Linked DNA regions of Homo sapiens: all the other regions are linked to region 3. The links come from fine-mapping of genetic effects on gene expression. A gene starts in region 3. Each other region holds a variant in brackets. All regions are shown on one strand. Distances are from middle to middle.

What was found. PIP is the estimated chance that this variant, and not a neighbour inherited with it, causes the effect.
Region 1: its variant is the best candidate, but not a certain one, in a credible set for the expression of ALDH8A1 in whole blood (INTERVAL, PIP 0.90).
Region 2: its variant is the best candidate, but not a certain one, in a credible set for the expression of ALDH8A1 in lung (TOPMed, PIP 0.79).
Region 4: its variant is the best candidate, but not a certain one, in a credible set for the expression of ALDH8A1 in tibial artery (GTEx, PIP 0.81).

The regions. Positions count from the first base shown.
Region 1 is chr6:135,037,803-135,042,958 of GRCh38, reverse strand. HBS1L (HBS1 like translational GTPase) reads left to right here. Exons shown (of 18, transcript NM_006620.4): 3 at 833-958; 4 at 3,192-3,386. Among named protein-coding and RNA genes, the nearest start is that of HBS1L, 14 kb to the left of the region's middle. The variant G/A (reference allele first, on the strand shown) is at 2,140.
Region 2 is chr6:134,830,712-134,835,867 of GRCh38, reverse strand. The region is part of intron 2 of LOC101928277 (a long non-coding RNA gene); the gene reads left to right. Among named protein-coding and RNA genes, the nearest start is that of ALDH8A1, 120 kb to the left of the region's middle. The variant C/T (reference allele first, on the strand shown) is at 1,934.
Region 3 is chr6:134,947,996-134,953,151 of GRCh38, reverse strand. It overlaps ALDH8A1 (aldehyde dehydrogenase 8 family member A1), which reads left to right and starts at 3,051. Exons shown (of 7, transcript NM_022568.4): 1 at 3,051-3,236. The coding sequence starts at 3,099.
Region 4 is chr6:135,067,340-135,072,495 of GRCh38, reverse strand. No RefSeq gene overlaps it. Among named protein-coding and RNA genes, the nearest start is that of HBS1L, 15 kb to the right of the region's middle. The variant T/C (reference allele first, on the strand shown) is at 2,139.

The sequences.
Region 1 (5,156 bases), 90 kb before region 3:
TGTCAGTGTATAATTGAAAGTGTGTGATTGAAAGCATGAGTTGTTTAAAGATTAAAGTCTGTATTTTCCGTGAACTCTTAGATTCAGGCAAAATTAGCACTTCATGTGTTTTCTTTTCTGTTTTTTTTTTTTGTTTTTTTTTTTTGAGACGGAGTTTTGTTCTTGTCACCCAGGCTGGAGTGCAATGGCGTGATCTCGGCTCACTGCAACCTCCGCCTCCTGGGTTCAAACGGTTCCCCTGCCTGCCTCAGCCTCCTGAGTAGCTGGGATTACAGGTGCCCACTGCCACGCCCAGCTAATTTTTATATTTTTAGTAGAGATGGGGTTTCACTGTATTTGCCAGGCTGGTCTCGAACTCCTGACCTCAGGTGATCTACCCGCCTTGGCCTCCCAAAGTGCTGGGATTGCAGGGGTGAGCCACTGCGCTTGGCCACCTTGTGTTTTCTTAATTATGTAAATTAGAAGTTTGATATTTGGTTTGAAATATTTGTATTGAAGAGAAAATTTCAGGGAACACAGAATAGTATACAAAGAAGAGATATTAGGAAAGGTAGATTTTGGAAACCAGGGAGAAAGTAGGCTGAGTGGAATGGTTTCAGAGATTGGGGGAAAGAAGGAAGAAGATTATAAGAGAATAATAAATTGTAAGCACCTTCGAGTAGGATTTTAGGTATATGTTTTGATATGATATTGTTTTTGTTTTCATCCCTTATGAAATATGGGTAACTATAGGTGATTGATTAGAATTTTTAATTTTTACTTTAACTTTTGTAAAAAAAAGTTAATAGGAAATGGCTATACCATAGCATTCTTTGATCATTTTATATTCTAGCTGCTCAGTTTATTTATTCACGGCGTGACAAACCTTCCGTTGAGCCTGTGGAAGAATATGATTATGAAGATCTGAAAGAATCTTCCAATTCTGTTTCAAACCATCAGCTCAGTGGATTTGATCAAGGTATAGCAAAAAGTAGTGTATCTGTTATCTGAAAGTGATTAATGACCAAATACACCAGAATTTATCAGTTTTATTGTGTTTATAACAGTGACTATGAACAGTAATGATGTAAACATATCTTTCATATTCAAGGACAGTTTATGTTTTATTAAGTATGTTTTGTGAGGAGTGTATTTAACTGTATGATTGAAAAATTGTATGGCTATTGTTTAGTAACTGAAATTTTAATTGAACTATCCCATTTAAAATTTTTTTCCATGGGAGAGAAACTCTAGTGATTCGTTAAGAAGAACTTTTTCAGATGATTTAATTGTTTCATAAGCTGTATATGGAGCTTATGATTAGAATACATAAACTCCTTTACTTACAAAGATGTTAAGTTCAAGAGGTTTCAAAAAAAACCAGTTGAAGTCTAAAGTGACACTGTATAAGTGTCCTCAGGATTTACATCTGTGTGAATTAAGTTTCAAGATTTACATCTGTGTGAATTAAGTTTCAAGATAGAACTTGGTAATGACATCGGTTCTGAGTTTTTGCATATTTTCAACTCTCTTAAACATTTTAATGAAGATATTTATATTTTAGCTTTCTTCTTTTATAAGTATAAATAAATAAATAAGTATAAATAAATAAATAAATAAAAAAGAGGAGGCCCTGATGCTAGCTAGCTATACTATTTTGTTACAGTTTCAATAATTGATGTATTTATCAAAGAGATAATATTATCCCATAGCTTATTAGCCTTTAAAAGTTAATCTTAAATTGAAGCAAAGCAGAATTGCCCAAATATTTCAGGAATGTATTTTTAATAATTAATGGGCCAATGAAAGAAGTATCAAATACTTTTTTTTTTAAAGAAAGGGTATTGCCAGTAGATTACTTGTTCAGCATATGAGCATGTACAATTAAATATAAATTGCATTCTGTGAAATGGTTTTGTGGAATAGGGAGTTTGAAAACCTCTATTCTATTTTGATTATTGCTAACTTAGTAGTGCCATGATTTTCAATCTTATCTTTATTAAGTTAGAATTTGCTTGATATATCTAGCTCATAGACTTATTATGAGGATTACAAAAGAAATATACATAAAAGTATTGTGAAAATTGTCAAGTGCTATACAAAAATATAAGGGAATATATCATTCATTTTTATTCATTGGCCCCTAGTTACCTGGTACTA[G/A]AGATACAAAGGGTTCTAGGGATACAAAGCCTCTCTGCTCTTATGGATTTTAAATCATTAATAAGTATTATTAATAATTACTTTTAATACTAATGTCATCAGAAAATTAAAATTCATAAACAGCTTAGATAATTCCAGACTTAAATTTTTTTCTTTTAAAAGTGAATGCCGGCTGGGCACGGTGGCTCACGCTTGTAATCCCAGCACTTTGGCAGGCCGAGGCAGGTGGAAACCTGAGGTCAGGAATTTGAGGCCAGCCTGGACAACATGGTGAAACCCATCTCTACTAAAAATAGAAAAATCAGCCGGGCATGGTGGCGGGCGTCCATAATCCCAGCTACTCAGGAGGCTGAGGTGGGAGAATTGCTTGAATCAGGGAGACGGAGGTTGCAGTGAGCTGAGATCACGCCACTGGCATTCCAGCCTGGGCAACAGAGTGAGACTCTGTCTCAAAAAAAAAAAAAAAAAAAAAAAAGAATGCCTATCCTCCCCTTAATCTCCTGGACTTTCTTATTTTTATGGCATTTTTATATTATGTTATCTTGCCGTTTTTTAAAGAGTCATTAAGGATTATTTTAGTTAGCTGGGAAGAACTGAAGTTAGCCAAAAAGGAAACTTAAGGTAGCAGCTTGAGAAATATAAGAAATATACTTCGTGAATAACTGGATTCACTAACAAATTAGAAATAGTTCCACACTCACCCCTTCCTTTCTGTACATGCAAAAAATGATCATTGCAGATACCATCATCACTGGTGACTGAAAATAGATATTAGTGTATACTGTGCAATGTACACTTTTTTGAAACATTAGTCACTATTATTCAGGAGACATTTTATTATAGTGATTTTTAAATTAACGAAATCGTTCCTTGGATAAGGGAAGATAGGTATATTGTAGATAAAAATACGATCATTAGAGATAATTTTTGCCAAAGAGAAGGGAGAGTTGAATATTCTAGTACAGCTGTAAATTTTAAAATCAGTTTTGAAGATTAAAAGTTCTTTCATTGCACCATTTAGTATAGCTTTTGACCATTGTCGTCTTTTCTAGCTCGTCTTTATTCATGCCTTGATCACATGAGAGAGGTACTTGGAGATGCTGTGCCAGATGAAATATTAATTGAAGCAGTTCTGAAGAACAAGTTTGATGTGCAGAAGGCTTTGTCAGGGGTTCTGGAACAAGATAGAGTGCAGAGTTTGAAGGACAAGAATGAGGCAACAGTATCTACAGGAAAGATAGCAAAAGGTATGCCTTTACTTGTTCTTTTTCACTTGTTTTACATAGTTAATGCCTAAAGAGAGGCTTTCGTTTGCTTGAGCTTTTAAGAAAATATTTAATTTGCTTGAGCTATTAAAATCTTGCATGTTATTGTTAACTTTTGATTATCAGTTGATCTAGTTGTGGATTTTTAGGATGATGACTGTGTTTCTTCTGTTGTAGCCTGTTTTTGTGGTTATTTTACTGCTTGATTGTTTTTGTTTGTTTTTTTGTTTGTTTTTTGAGACAGAGTCTCACTCTGTCACCCAGGCTGGAGTGCAGTGGCATGATTTTGCTCACAGCAGCCTCCACCTCCTGGGTTCAAGTGATTGTCCTTCCTCAGCCTCCCAAGTAACTGGGATTACAGGTGCGTGCCACCATGCCTGGCTTTTTTTTTTGTTTGTATTTTTAGTAGTGATGGGGTTTCACCATGTTGGTCAGGCTGTTCTTGAACTCCTGGCCTCAAGTGATCCGCCTACCTTGGCCTCCCAAAGTTCTTGGATTGCAGGCGTCAGCCACTGTACCTGGCCTCACTAGTTGATTTTATAACAACATAGTGGAAATAAAATTAGATAAGACAAGACATCTTTTTCTTCTTGTTAGTAGCTTATAGAACTTTTTAATTGTTATTTTTTTAAACTCTGATGAGATAGGAAAAGGAAATTGACAGCCAGCTAATTAATGTTAAAAAAATCCCTTTATGCTTTTATTATGTATAATTTTGTTTTATTTAAAAATAATTAGGTATAAGTATCATAATTATACTACTTTGCATTTTATAGCCAGAGATTTAATTTTAAATTTGTAAAATTTGGGGTTAAATTTGGAATTCAGTGGACATAAGAGGGGAACTGAGGTGGTAGCATTATATTAATTGGCATGCTATCTCTCAGTTTGAGTATGGCGATTTGTTTACTATGTCAGTGTTTGTTGTAACCTCTGGGCTAAATTTTTTCTACAACAAAGCTGTGTACAGCCTGTTACCATGAAATAAGAGTGTGTTTTCCAGGGATGCTGGGCACACAGATGGGCACTTGTAACTGGCTGTGATGGGAATGAGTCTGTAATATGTCATCTTGTATTGATAGTGTATCCCAGATTGTGGTAGAAATTACCGGGGGTTGTTTGCTTATTTGTTTCTAATACATTAAAATACAGAATAAAAGGAACCTAGTTTTTTTTGTTTTTTTAAAGAAGTTTTTGAATTTGAGACAATCCTGACTACAATTTAATTATGGTTAAGACCTCACATTTTTAAATTCGTGAAAATTAGAACATTGACTGACTTACATTGTATGTATCAGTGAACAGAGTATAAAGGTTACTTTAAATTGGTAAAGGAAGGTAATACTCCCTTATTGTTTTTTAGAGTATTCATGTTAAGTAATGATCAAGTATCACTTTATTCATGTCATAATCAAAAGAAGCATTTAGTAATTAAATGCCTCATTTCATGTTTCCTTTTGGTTGCTGTGACTGTCTTCTGCGTATATCAACCTATTCATCTGAAAATTAATGGCTCTTGTAAGGTAAGGAGTCTTATTTTCTTCTTCTGAAGTTTCAGCTGATAATGTTCAAAGTTCTTATCCTCAGTCAGCAAATCATTTGGATTATAGTAGCAAACCCTTTGATTTTGCTAGCTCAGTAGGAAAATACGGATTATCTCATAATTCTTCAGTTCCAACTCACTGTTTACTCCATAGAAAAAAGAAACTTGACACACGTAAAAGTGAAAAGAAACTAGAATCATGTAAGTTA
Region 2 (5,156 bases), 120 kb after region 3:
AACTGAGCGAATACTTAAAATGTATTTAAAATGAAAATCACACCCTCGTGGAGTTAGTAGGCATAGAAATTGAAGAAAGCATAGATAGAACAAGAAAAGACAGAAAGCTGGGTGACTTACCTACAAAGCACAAGCACATCCATGTTTTTCTTTTTCTGATATATGTATTTTACTGCCCATGGACAGACTAGTCTTGGAAAAAATCTTCTGCTTATATCTTTTTGTTAGATACTTTGAATTTTCAGTATGACCTTTCCCCTGCAACCATCATTAAATTCTCTAAATAATAACAAGACAGTTTTCCTTTTTTCTACTTGTATTTATGGGAACTGTATTAAAATTGATTAAAATAAATCATGTGTGTTAAGTACTAATCTCATTTTCTTTCTTTTATTCCCATGGCCAATGTTACAGTGTCAATATGGATGTCTTTGTGCCCTAGGGAGACAGAAAACAGAGGTTATCCATCTTTGCCAAGGAGATTGATGTCTTAGTCAATATCATCATGGGACACCTGGAAAAACTGGCCACTCTTCTCCCTACAACTCCTTCCTGATTTTCAGCTCACCAGGGGTCCTGCTCTTGTTCCTCCCATTATTATGGCCAGAGAATGTCAAGCTTTAGTAACTCCCTGTACAAAATGCCCTTGAAGAAAGATAAGAAAGTGTCAGAAAAGAATACGTCCTCATTATAATTCCTCCACCTCCTTGGAAAGTGTTATTTGACTCAGTTTCCCTCTCACTTGGGGATAGTGGGTGTTTCAGGCATCCTAGGTCTATTGCTTTTGATTCTTATCAGTCAACACAATAGTAAGGTCTTTTCTATGATGTTGCTTTTGCATTTTATATTGTCTCACTAAGTTTCAAAACATCTAGTAATGACCATTTCCTTACATTATAATTTAAAGTCAGCTCCCCGCTTTGTAACAAGCCAATTAGTTCCACCTTGCAACAGATAGGGGGAGAAGCTGTTGTTCTAAATGTTAGGCCATTTTTTTCTTATTATTTTAAATCAGTGTTCCATTTTTCCCTGTTGATTTTTAAACTCAAAATCTGTTGTGTGATTTTGAAGACTATGAAAATGGGAGGAAAATGAAAAACATCTCCAAACATACTAATATTTTAAACCCCTTTGGTACGTACACACAGAATTATTGTAGTTTGCATGTGGGATCTTGATTGTGTTGCTATGAATTATTTAAACACAGCTTATGCAACATAGAGAACTAGTGTCTAAAACTATGAACAATCATTTCCTTACTTTTGAGGTCGTGTGTTTATTGGTTCTGCCGATGTCATCAAGGGATATTTTATTTTCTATCAGCCTAGCTTTCAGACTTGCTTCTGGCTTTGACTGCTAGTCTATTAACAAGTTTTTCTAAATTCAACCTGTTGTGCGTGGAAACCGTGTCACATGTGACAAAACAATGACCCACATACCACAAACTTCAGGTTGGCATCTATGACGTTCAGGCTGACTCCTGTTTCAAAAAATGTCTAAAATTATAGCATCTATTTGATTGCTTTTCCACAAGGGAAACGGTCTAGGAAAATACCCCCGGGCTCTGAAAGTTGTTAGAGCTTTAGCTTTAGTTACCTTTATTTTAGGGTCCAGCTTAGCTCTCTGCAAATATCGTCTTATGTTTTTGTTTTTCCCTTATGAAATAACTCACTATATCTGTGAGCTAATTAAAGGTCCTTTGAATTTCTTTACTGTACCTAGAAAAGTCTCCTGGGGTGAAATGAGTGCACAGTAATCTCTGTTTTTCTCTTCCTCCCTCCCTCCCCTAACCCACCCTCCCTCCCCCTTTCTCTCTGTGGACTTGAGGAGGGATCCCTCCGTTAGTGATAAATATTAAATCCTACACTGTGCTTAAAAGGATAACTAGGCCGGGTGCAGTGACTCATGCCTGTAATCCCAGCACTTTGAGAGG[C/T]CCAGGTGGGTGGATCACCTGAGGTCAGGAGCTCCGAGACCAGCCTGGCCAACATGGTGAAACTCCCGTCTCCACTAAAAACACAAAAATTAGCCATGTGTGGTGGCAGTCACCTGTAATCCCATCTACTCGAGAGGCTGAAGCTGTAGAATCACTTGAACCCGGGAGGCAGAGGTTGCAGTGAGCTGAGATGGCACCATTACACTCCAGACTGGGCAACAAGAGTGAAACTCCGTCTCAAAAAAAAAAAAAAAAAAAAAAAAGGATAACTAAAAATACACATATAATGGGGTAGATTTGATTTAATAAACATTTAATATGAAAAAAAGTCCCCTGGAGCAGGGGTGGGTGACTAGTTGGCTGTGAGTTAGCAGTGTGGCATGGCCACGAGTCCTGCAGAAGGCTTTTAGGTCTAGGTCAGCACCAGAGAAGGGTCCACAGTTGTGGAGCAATCCTTGAGGCCTCTGACACTATCTTTGTCTCCAGGTCCTGCATTTCAAGTGAAATTTTCCCCAAAGTTCACCCAGTGAGGAGCAATCAGAATCATTGGATCTTGAAACAGGGGCATTTGAGTGATGAGCCAGGAAAAATATGATTCAGGATGGTGCATAATTACTCTTCCAGATGTTTGAAGGGTGTTAAGAGGAAGACAGAGTCCATGTCTTCATGTGGCTTCAAGAGCAAAATTCTGGCCAGCAGGTAAAATTATAGCAAATATATTTCAGGCTGGGGGCCGTGGCTTATGCCTGTAATCCCATCATTAGGCAAGGCCGAGGTGGGAGAATCCCTTGAGTTTAGATGTTTGAGACCAGCCATCATGAGATCCCTATCTTTACAAAAATCTTACAAATTAGCTGGCATAGTAATCCCAGCTACTTGGGAGGCTGGGGTAAGAGGATTGCTTGAGCCCAAGAGTTCAAGGCTGCAGTGAGCCAAGATTGGCCACTGCACTCCAGCCTGGGTGACAGTGAGATCCTGTCTCTAAGAAAAATGAAAAAGAAAAAGCCCATTTCAGCTTAAGGAAAGAAAGCCATTTCCAATGGTCCCAGCTCTCTGAGATGGGAGAAGAGTGCTACAGGATGTATGTAGTGAGTCCCTGTTCCTAGGTTGAGGACAGGGAAGATGGCTGCTCCCCTTGAGGGGATGTGGCAGGGATTGGACCGAACGTCTCTGTGGATCCTATCAACGCCAAGATCCTCTGGTGCTGTTAGAAAACACGAATTCTCTGTTTCTAAATAAGTGAAGTTTCAGCCTATGACAGGCTCTCTACAAAAACAAAATGCAAATGTACATTAGGGACAAATGGGCTAAGTTCTGGGATCCTGGAATGAGGCTGCCTGGGTTTACCGTTTATGAGACAATATTGTTACCTTCTCAATTTTCCCATGTGTAAACTGGAAGTGTTAGTAGCATGTGTCTCTTAAGGTTGTTGTAAGGATTAAGCAGGTTAGTGTATGTAAAGATGTTAGATGGGGGAAGGCACAAGCAAGCTCTGTGTATGGGTTAGCTGTTTCTAGCATTACCAAGGCACTTTCTGCATGAAAGTACAAAGTTAATGTTGCATCTTCAAAAATCAAAGTAATCAGATATTCAGATAGTGGAGTCCCGATGAGCGAGATTCCACTGGGCAGTCTGGTCCAAATTCATCCTCCACTTTTTCAACTGAATACAGAACATCAATCTAGAGAATTGTTTTGTTTTGTTTTTTTTTGAGACAAAGTCTCACTCTGTCGCCCAGGCTGGAGGACGGTGGTACGATCTTGGCTCACTGCAGCCTCTGTCTCCTGGGTTCAAGCAATTCTCCTGCCTCAGCCTCCTGAGTAGCTGGGATTACAGGCACGCATCACCACGCCCAGCTAATTTTTGTATTTTTAGTGGAGATGAGGTTTTGCCATGTTGGCCAGGCTGGTCTCAAACTTCTGACCTCAAATGATTCACCTGCCTCAGCCTCCCAAAGTGGTGGGATTACAGGTGTGAGCCACCGTGTCCAGCCCCAATCTAAATTTTTTGTACCATTAGTGGACAATGATTTTTCTTTTTTACTTTTTTTTGTTTTTTGAGGCAGAGTCTCGCTTTGTTGCCAGGCTGGAGTGCGGTGGCACGATCTCGCTCACTGCAACCTCCGCCTCCCAGGTTCAAGCAATTCTCCCGCCTCAGCCTCCCAACTAGCTGGGATTGCAGTGGCGCACCACCATGCCTAGCTACTTTTTGTATTTTTAGTAGACACAGGGTTTCCCCATGTTGGCCAGGCTAGTCTTGAACTCCTGACCTCAAGTGATCTGCCTGCCTTGGCCTCCCAAAATGCTGGGATTACAGGCGTGAGCCACCGCGCCTGGCCATGGACAATGATTTTTCTAACTCAAACAAATACCAAAATGCATCATATAGTTGTTCAATGAGTAGCTTTCACCATGAGACAATAAATAATTTAGTTAACATTTCTTGGTCTTCTCTAAAATATCAAAAGCTTTCCAATTCACTTAAGCTGGCTAAACCCCTAATTATTATTCTAGCAACAAAACTGGGGCCAGTTCCAGGCATCAGTGTGAAATGGCTTTCTCTGAATTGTAGCATAAATGATAAATAAATAATGCCTAATATTAGAGGTAACTGAATTAGAGTATGTTTAGTGCAAGCATCTATTGCAGCAGAAAAAAGATTCAGCAGAGAGAGAAGAGGACATTTTGGATCAAGAAAAAAACACAATAGCATGTGTAAGAGGTTATTAACTCTGCACCATTTGCCCACTCCCTTAGTAATGTTTAACAAGGCTTTATTGATTACAATAGCCTTGATTTGTAAATGGGAACAGAAGATCACATTGTTGGCACCAGACCAGTCCTTGCCTACAGCATCTGCCAGCTGAAGACTTCATTAATAATTGACTTTAGGGGGATTATACGCGCCCATATGGGCCTGTCTTTTGCCAGCATCCTTCATCACAATATGCAGCTTGATTTATGAATAATTGTAGGATATTAGTTCTGGAAGACACCACAGACTGGAAATTGGAGAATTTAATCAGTGGCAGAGCCAGAGTCAGATTTTCTGACTCCTATTGCAAAGCCTTTTACACTAAATATATGTGGACTCTCATCAGCAACCTGAAATGTTGGCTGCAGATTTAAAAAATCTGACAGCTCAATAATATAAAATATTTCTCCAAGCGGCTCACTACAGGTGACCTCCAGACACTCTTGACTTCATCATCTTACCTTCCCCT
Region 3 (5,156 bases):
CTCCCATTTATAATTTTTTCTCAGTTGCACTCAAGGTCTTGAGTCCCCTGTCCTCACTGTGCAGGACCTGGCAGTGAATCCACCCCTTGGGATGTGGTGGGGGGTGGATTCTGTGACCGCAAATGGGAGTACGTTTCACCCATGGGTCAGAATGCTGTTACAGGGATGTGGTAAGAACAGATCTGCATTCAGCAGGACACACTGGCGAGCAGATGGAGCCAGCCAGAATAATTCAGGAGCAGGTGATACCCACATGTCCAGTGAAGCAGGTAGAACTACCTAGAAGTAGGTTCTCAGCCACTAGGCCCAGATATAGGATTTCATGTCTCTTCAAGGGAAACCGACAGGAGAAACGTTGGTGCCAACTTAGAGAAAAGGCCTTGAAGGCATGTCAGAGCTCAGGTATCAGGACTGGGGTCAACTGACATGACCAGACTCTGAATGAGGCCCATGCTCTGTCCTCCAGGATGAAAGTCTCCCAGCTCAGCTGAGCTCTGATTCCAGAGTCATCTCTGTGGTTGACCTGCAGGTGGGGATCAAATGGTTGCACTGTGGACAGAAAAGGGCTGACAGGGGGAAGTGGGGGAAGGCCAAGTACATTATGAAAAACCAGCGAGGCCAGGCACAGTGGCTCACGCCTGTAATCCCAGCACTTTGGGAGGCTGAGGAGGGCGGATCACTTGAGGTCAGGAGTTTGAGAACAGCCTGACCAACATGGTGAAACCCCGTCTCTACTAAAAATACAAAATTAGCCAGGCGTGGTGGCACATACCTGTAATCCCAGCTACTTGGGAGGCTGAGGCAGGAGAATTGCTTGAACCCAGGAAGCAGAGGTTGCTGTGAGCTGAGATCATGCCATTGCACTCCAGCCCGGGCAACAAGAGTGAAACTCTGTCTCAAAAAAAAAAAAAGAAAAAGAAAAACCAGCGAAGGCCCAGCTTGAGCAGCCAATGGCACAAGAAAATGGCACAAGGAGGCCACTGTAACTGACAGACACGCCTGCTCTGCCACTGGGACTGATCTTGTGTGGGGAGTTCTGATCAGCACCAGGCACTCTTTAGAAGCACCGTGTCCGGCTTCTGTCCTCTTCTACTGTCACGTGGCAGAAAATTCCTCTCTCATGCTATCCTGGGTAAAGTCCTTTCTTCAAAAAGATCTCCCTTCCATAGTCCTCCCATTAGAATCTTTTGCACTCTGTACAAAAAGACAAACATTCTGATGAGTCCATCAACATTAGGCAGAGTTGTTGGAGACCCAGGAAGATGGGCTACAGAAGTCTTTATGCACACACCGGGTGGTACTCACTGTCTCTCAGCACCAAGCTCACTTCTTGGTACTTCACTCTGTGGTGCCAGGGCTGGGACCTGCGTATTTCTCTCATTCTGTTTCCAGCTGACCTGACCGTGGGCAGCACCAGAAAAAGCCTGAGACTACCTTCTGTCTCCAGTCCCTGTCAGCGACTCTCCAGCGACAGGCAACGGCGCCAGCTCCAGACTCCAGCTGCTCTGGGCCTCCCAGAATCAGCCACACCATGCTTGTCAGAAGTCTCAGCAAGAATTTTGGAGAATATCTAGAGACCAATAAAGATGGAAGCAGAGAGGGCCTAAGGAGGTGCACGGCCAGCAAGTGCCCTCATGTGATCAATGAATTTTAGAATATTGGTACCTAACCTTCAACTGAATTATAACTATAAATCATAATTATAAAAGTAATATAGGCTTGCCATAAAATATCCAAGCAGTTTAAAACGGCTTCCTGTCAACCATGTAAATAGCCAAAGAAACTATGCTGTATATATTATTCACTAGTTTTATTTTTTCACTTAACAATGCATCCTTCTAATGTCTAAGTAGTATTCCCTGTTAAGAATATAACAATTATACTCTAATATTCTCCAATTGATGGACTTTAGGTTGTTTTGATTTTTAAATTATGATAAAAAAGGATGTCCTGTGACTTATGTACTTGTTCATGAGCACGTAATTCTGTAGGAGAGATTCCTAGAAGAGAAATTGACCAGACCCTGACAAATTGCCCCAAGCAGTGTTCTGTGAACCCTCCCGCCTATGGACTAGGGATGATTCTCCACATCCTCACAGAGTAGATGTTCTCAATCTTTAAAAATGCTCTCCAGTATGATTGGCAAATCAGGCCACCTCTGTATTTCACATTCCTTGCTTAACAACAAGGCTGAACATTGTTAATATATTCATTAGCCAATTGTGTTCCTTTTCCTATGGATTGCTTTTTTGTATCTTTGCTTATCTTTTCTGTTGGGGTGCTCATTTCTCTTACCAATTTGTAGAAATTCTCAGCTACATCAGGGATCTGAAGCCCTTGCTATATGTGTCACACATGTTTTTGGCTTGTCTTTATCTCCATGGCACATCTAGGAAGATGTGAGCAGCCACTGTGGCCCCGGTTTTGGGATGGAGAGACAGCTCTTCCAAGAGAGGGCAGCCAAGGTAAAGAAACACAGATGAGCCACGGAAAGAGGGCATCTGTCTTCAGTTACCTCTGCAGGGTAAGCAGTGATGCATTGAGGAAAAAGTATATGATTTGGAGATTAAAGGGCTACAGTTCATCCCCTGCTAACTATGTGACCTTGGAAAAATGGTCTAACCTCTCCAAGGCTCAGTTTCTTCTATAAAAGAGAGGAAGTAATGGTTACTTCATATAGGATTGTTGTGTGGAATAAACGAGTAAATTCATGTAAAGGACTTGCTTTGGGGCCTGGCATCCAATCAGTGTTTGAGCAATGAACAGTTTACGGTGTGAACCCAATAAAATCACATGCACAGATGCCTTCTGATGATTTAAAGGGCTATGAACACATAAGTAAGTAGCTGTTACTTTTACACACAATTATCCATGTCAGGTAATGTACTAGAAGTCTGTGAAACATTCAGCCACTCTCTTAGTTCTGAGTTTGGAGACTGGAATGCTCTCTGAGAGCGTCAGGTGCCCTCCCACATTCACTGATTGGTAAAGGGGAAGATGGGGGCTGGGAAGGGGGAGGCTCACTCAGGAGTCCAGACAGTGGTGGGGACAACCTGAGTGCTCAGTCGTAAAGAGGAAAGGCAGAATTTTTCCTTGCTATGGCTGGAACAAACGCACTTTTGATGCTGGAAAACTTCATAGATGGAAAATTTTTACCTTGTAGCTCATATATAGATTCTTACGACCCATCAACAGGGGAAGTGTATTGCAGAGTGCCAAATAGTGGAAAAGACGAGGTGAGTATATGCACTTAAAGAAGACTGAAATGTGTTTAATATGTTGGCCAATTATGGGTAACAGTTTTCTAAAAGCAGAGGGAGTTGGGGGAAGATGTAGGATTGTTAAACATGATAGAAGGAAGATTCTAGTTCTCAGAAGATGTACCTTGTAACTGGACTGTATGATACCTAGAACAAATCTCTTCCTATATGCAGAAAGTAAGTCATTTTTCTAGCCAACCTAACACAGCCCTGTGTGCAGTTTTTTTTTGCAATTCTCAAACATTTCCTAATCAGTGTCTAGTACAAAGTATTATTTGTAAGAGCTATCACTTTGTTAAATATTCCCTTTTCTCCACCACGCACTGCTTAAATTTACCACTATATCCATGGAATTAAAAAAAAAGTATAGCTTTACTAAAATAAACAAACAAGCAAAAAACTGTGGGCTTTGTTTTAGATTGTCTTCTCATAATTTGTCATGTCTTCAAAATACCTAGTAAAATAAAATCAATCATTTGAATGATGAAACTCAAAATCAAATTCCCATATATTTTTGGAGTTAGATTTAACAGCGTCTTTTTTCTTATCCAAAGTGTTTAATGGCATATGCATTACATTTTTTTGGTGATGTAGAATTAATTTTACTTGGAGAATTTTGTAAAATATTTGAGATATATTTGATTAGCTATCAATTATTGCACTGAGAATGTAAATATATCTGAAGTGGTAAATGTAGCTGATGTATATATAGTCATCTAATGCCTTATGAATTATAATTTATTCTTTTTAAGGCACAAATAACTAGATTATTTAAAATATAGTCTTCCTATAAAAATATATATTCCATGCAAAGTTTTTTTTTAAGAACATTGCTATTTTTTTTCTTTTTTGTTAATACTTCAAATCTGTCTTGCATTTAAAGTAAACCTTCAGACTTAGGGATTAATGTTTGCAAATGTTGGTTAATGCATTGGTTAAATTATAAACTGCAATTTTGTTTGCTTCAAATGACTTAACACAGCTCTGGGAAATCCAGCTTTGTGTTTTCCACTCTTCCTTGTTTGCCAAAGTGAAGTTAAAAATGACAAACATGCCAAATTCAGCTGAAATATTTCCTGCAGCTAATGGCTCATAACTTTTTAGAAAATAGAATGAGCTATGGATGCGCTAGCTAGTAGAGTAATAGATATGTTCAGTTTCTCAGCAATCCAACTTCCAAATATCCTATCTGATCCCATAAGTCATAGTTTTTTCCGGCTTGAAAAATATGGTTACCATACAAACTGCATGTCCAATTTCCAAAACATCACTCAGGAAAATGTTGCTGGTGCTGCTAACAGTGGCTCCCGTTTATTCAACTTTTGCTTTGTGCTTTGCAGTCATTAAGCCCTTTTTTAACAAAAAATTAAAAAATTGATACATAATAATTGTACATCTTTATGGGCATATGTGACATTTTGATACATGCATACAATGTGTCATGATCAAATCAGGGTAATTAGGATCTCCATCACATTAAACATTTATCATTTCTTGGTGTTGGGAACATTCCAAATCTTTTCTTCTAACTATTGTGAAATATACAATAAATTATTGTTAACTATTGTCACTCTACTAGAACTTATTCCTTTTAACCATATTTTTGTATTAATTAGCCAACCTCTATCCTCTCCTCTACCCTTCCCAGCCTCTGGTAACCATAATTGTACTCTCTACCTCCATGAGATCAACTTTTTTAAGCTTCCACATATGAGTGAGAACATGTAATATTTGTATTTTTGTGCCTTGCTTACTTCACTTAACGTAATATCCTCCAGCTCAAATCGTGTTGGTGCAAATGACAGGATTTTGTTCCTTTTTATGGCTGAATAATATTCCATTGTGTATATATACCATATTTTCTTTATCCATTCAGCTGTTGATGGACATTAGGTT
Region 4 (5,156 bases), 120 kb before region 3:
ATTTTCTCAACAGGATGCTTCTCATAATGGGAAATTCATTGAGACACTTCATTCCATTGCTGAAAAGCTTTCTGTATGCCGGGCGCGGTGGCTCAGGCCTCTAATCCCAGCACTTTGGGAGGCCGAGGCAGGTGGATCAAGAGGTGAGGAGAGCGAGACCATCCTGGCTAACACAGTGAAACCCCGTCTCTACTAAAAAATACAAAAAAATAGCCGGGCGTGGTGGCGGGCGCCTGTAGTCCCAGCTACTTGGGAGCCTGAGGCAGGAGAATGGCGTGAACCCGGGAGGCGGAGCTTGCAGTGAGCCAAGATCGCGCCACTGCACTGCAGCCTGGGCGACAGAGCGAGACTCCGTCTCAAAAACAAACAAACAAAAAGCTTTGTGTGCATTTCCCTCAAATTCAACTGAGACTTTTGTCTTTATAAATCCCACTCTTCTAGGACAACACAAAATAAAGTTATTCTAAAATCTATAGAATAGTTCTTAGAATTGCTACGTGATGGCTTAGACTGCTATTTGATGATAGCAGTCACGTCATCCTTTAGCCTTCTACTCTCTAATATAATTAGCTCCAAGATATTCAATGTTTTTTTCTATAACATGGTATTCATCATCTTACATCATCTTGGTCCTTAACTGTCAGTCTTCATGCCACTGTGTGTAACCATCTGATTCTCATGGTTCTCCATCTTAGTCCACTTGGGTTGCTAAAACAAAAATACCACAGACTGGATGACCTAAACAACAGGCATTTATTTCTCATAGTTGTGAAGGCTGAAGGAGAACAATATCATGATGCCAGCAGATTTGGTGTCTCATGAGGGCTCACTTCCTAGTTCATCTCTCTGTGTCTTCATATGTCAGAAAGAGGGCCAGAGAGCTGTCTGGGATCTCTTTGGTAATGATATTAATCCCATTTATGAGGGCTCCAAACAAATGAATTAATTACTTTCCAAAGGCTCCACTTTCTAATGCCATCACACTGGGGATTAGGATTTTAACATGAATTTTTGGGTGACAAACTCAATCTATAACATTTCCTTTCATCCATTTTCCAGTACACATTTATTTCACCTTTAACATTTATTTGGCTATGGCTATGGTTTGAATGTATCCCCCAAAAGTTCATGTGTTGGAAATCTAATTTCTCTCTTCATGAATGGATTAATGAATTAATGTCACTATCATGGGAGTGGGTTTCTTATACAAGTGAGCTCTCTGGCTCTCTTGCTCTTGCCCTCTTACCAAGCGATGTCCTCTGTCATGTTATGATGCAGCAAGAGGGCCCTCGCCAAATGCTGGTGCTATGCTCTTGGACTTCCTAGTCTCTAGAACCATGAGCTAAATAAACTTATTTTGTTTATAAATTGCCCAGTCTATGGTATTCTGTTATAGCAACAGAAAGTGGACTAAGATAGTTATTTAAAATAACTGTTGCATTTTATCTAATGTCCAAATTTGAACATATTGCTTATAAACAACTTTGAAACGGATACTGTGTTGTCCTTTACATTTCATTTGTATAATATATAGTAAAAGACAGAGAAAAATGGGCAACATTTTCAATTCTAAAATAATTATTAAAATAAATATGAAGATAAATGTTTCAAACACCTTTTTACACGTGGAAATCAGAATGTATGATATAGTTTATTATTTGCTGCAATCTATAAAAATTTCCTTATAAAGAGGTGATGCAAGCATTTTGTCGGCCTTGGAAGGATTATGTATCTTTAAGAATTAAAGCTAGAGGCTGGGTATAGTGGCTGACACCTGTAATTTCAGCACTTTGGGAGGCCTAAGCGGGTGGATCGCTTAAGTGCAGAAATTTGAGACCAGCCATGGGCACCGTAGCAAAACCCCATCTCTACAAAACAAAAAACAAAAAAACAAAAATTATCTGGGTGTGGTGCTGTGTGCCTGTAGTCCCAGATACTCAGGAGGCTGAGGTGGGAAGGTTGCTTGAGCCCAGGAGGTGGAGGTTGCAGTGAGCCAGGATTGCACCACCACACTCCAGCCTGGGAGACAGAGCAAGACCCTGTCTCAAAAAAAAAAAAAAAAAAAAAAATGAGAACTAGAAATTTGCTCGTATTTCCAGACTTTCTAAGAACCTAAGCACACACCAAGACTTAGTGTG[T/C]TTTCTGCTTTTACATTCAAAAATGATAGACGCTATAAATGCTGTGATTCAAGTATCATTTACATTTTAAACTGGAGGCCAGGCACGGTGGCTCATGCCTGTAATCCCAGCACTTTGGGAGGCCAAGGTGGGCAGATCACTTGAGGTCAGGGGTTCGCGACCAGCCTGGTCAACATAGTGAAACCTGTCTCTACTAAAAATACAAAAATTAGCCGGACATGGTGGCGCATGCCTGTAGTCCCTGCTACTTGGGAGACTGAGGCAGGAGAATCCCTTGAACCTGGGAGGCGGAGGTTGTAGTAAGCCAAGATCACACCACTGCATTCCAGCCTGGGCAACAAAGTGAGATTCCGACTCAAAAAAAAAAAAAAAAAAAAATTAAACCGGAAAGAAACTTAGAGGTCCTGTGGTAAAACCTGTTTAAAAGCAAACAAACAAACAAACAGAGGCTGGCAAAGTGAGTTGCCTTGACACAGTTAGTTGATTGCTAACCTGAAGCGTTCCTAAATTATAGATAGATATTCTTTGCCTTGCACCAAGTTGCTTTTTGATAGGAGGCAAAACAAAGGAGCCTTCCCATGCATTTCTTCATGACAAAGTTTTCTGCAGCCACTGCTTCTATTGGTAAATGAAGTACTCTTCTTAGGTTCTTTGAGAGACATGCTAAATACTGGAAATTTGCCATGACATGAAGGATACCAGAAATCAGTCCTACTAATAGGCTTACCATGATACAGGTTATTTCCGAATTCCTGATTTACCCCTTATTCTAGAGTGCCTATATTAAGGCACATAAAGAATTTAAAAATCTCTCTCCTTGTGGGACACTTCCTCCCTAAACATCAGTGTGCCCCTGAAAGGTTCTTTTCCCTAAGTAGAATGAGTAAATCACAAGGCAACAGCTCTATACAAGGAGTTCAGAATTCATCAAGCCAATACTCCTAGGTCCAGGGCTGAGAAGAAGAAAGAGGGGCCAATATAAAGGCCAGTCTATGTTTGGCTCTTCTTATTGGTCTCGTTAAACAAATTGTGATTTTAAAAAAATTTCTAGTATATTTTTCCTCTAAAGCTGTTTATTGTTTTTTCTTCTTTTTCATTGTCTGTCAATAGGCTATGACTAGTGGAGAAAGCAATAATGACCTATATATTAAGACAGATTTATGTACACTAGTATGTCTGAGTATAGGAACAAAATTATCTCAGCTTTTGTCTGGCCTAAAACTCTTGGAATGGAATAATTAATTCTTAAGCATTTTACTGAAGGTTTAAAAATATCTTTATAGAGAATTTTCTGTGTTTAATGGATTAGGAGTATCCTAATAACATGACAGTGTACTTCATTGCATGCTGCTTAATTTCCTGTCCTCTTTTTCATTCACTAATAAAAGCATGACTTAAGGAATAAACTGTCCTTGGGACACATCTGAATCAATTATCAGTGCAAGTGAAATTTAATATCCCTGTAGTAATTTTTTTTTTTTGACGGAGTCTCGCACTGTCGCCTGGACTGGAGTATAATGGCACGATCTCGGCTCACTGCAACCTCTGCCTCCTGGGTTCAAGCGATTCTCCTGCCTCAACCTCCCAAGTAGCTGGGATTACAGGTGCCCTATACCTCACTCAGCTAATTTTTTGTATTTTTAGTAGAGACAGGGTTTCACTATGTTGGCCAGGCTGGTCTCGAACTCTTGACCTCGTGATCTGCCTGCCTTAGCCCCCCAAAGTGCTGGGATTACAGGCGTGAGCCACCACACCCGGCCATAATTTTTTTTTTGAGACAGAGTTTCACCCTGTTGCCCAGGCTGGAGTGCAATGCTGCGATCTAAGTTCACAGCAACCACTGCCTCCTGGGTTCAAGCAATTCTCCTGCCTCAGCCTCCTGGGTAGCTGGGATTACAGGCACGTGCCACCATGCCAGGCTAATTTTTTGTATCTTTAGTAGAGAGCGGGTTTCACCATGTTGGCCAGGCTGGTTTCGAACTCCTGAACTCATGATCCATCCGCCTCAGCCTCCCAAAGTGCTGGGATTACAGGCGTGAGCCACCGTGCCTGGCCAACACTGTAGTAATTAAAAATAATAATAATAAATGACCTACATTAATATTACTTGGGAAGATGATATTTTATCAAAAGTTTCCTTGTTCAGCTGTCATTTTTTTGAAGGGCATCAACCTTTGAATAAAGTATTTGTTCCTTAAAACTTCTCAGGCAATTAATATGTTGGGTAACAAGTGAAAGAATGGAGACTACAGAATTTCATAACATAAATTTTCCACACAGAAAATCAAGTCCTTGTTACACTAGCTTTCTTGATTCGTTTTAGTGTAACATTTCAATGGGGTAGAATAAAAAGATCTTTTATGATTATTTATGGTATACGTAGGAGGCAGTTTTCAGAATTGTGACTAGTGACCAAAGAAAATCTCACTTAAAGCAGACTCTCTAAACTTGTATTCTTTGTCATATAAATAATCCGAATCAATAGTACTTATAATTAACTTTATATAACTATCATTAGCATTTTTGTGAATTATGAGAGTCTATAGACATGTAACATGGCGGTATTTACTACTGTCTCTGTGAGATGTTTTTTGGGTTGATAATTATTCTGGTTATCTATTGCTAAACAACAACCCCAAAACTTAGTGGCTTAAAATAAACATTTATATTTGTTCACAATTCTGCAACTTGGGTAGAATCAGTGAGGACAGATGATCTCTATTCCACTCAGCATCTGCTGGGGTATCTGGAAGGCTGGACACTGGGATAATCTGAAGCCTCATTCACATACATGTCTGGTCATGAAGGCCGGTTGTCATCTGGAATCTCAGCAAAGGCACTACTGGGCACCTACATATGGCCTTTCCAAATTGCTGTTTGCCTTCCTCGTATTATGGCGACTGGGTTCTGAGGGTGAGCATCCAAAGAGGACCAAGTGAAAGCCGTATCACCTTTTATGGCCAGCTTTAGCAGGTACGTAATGTGGCTTCCAATGCAGTCATAGGTCCGCCCAGTTTT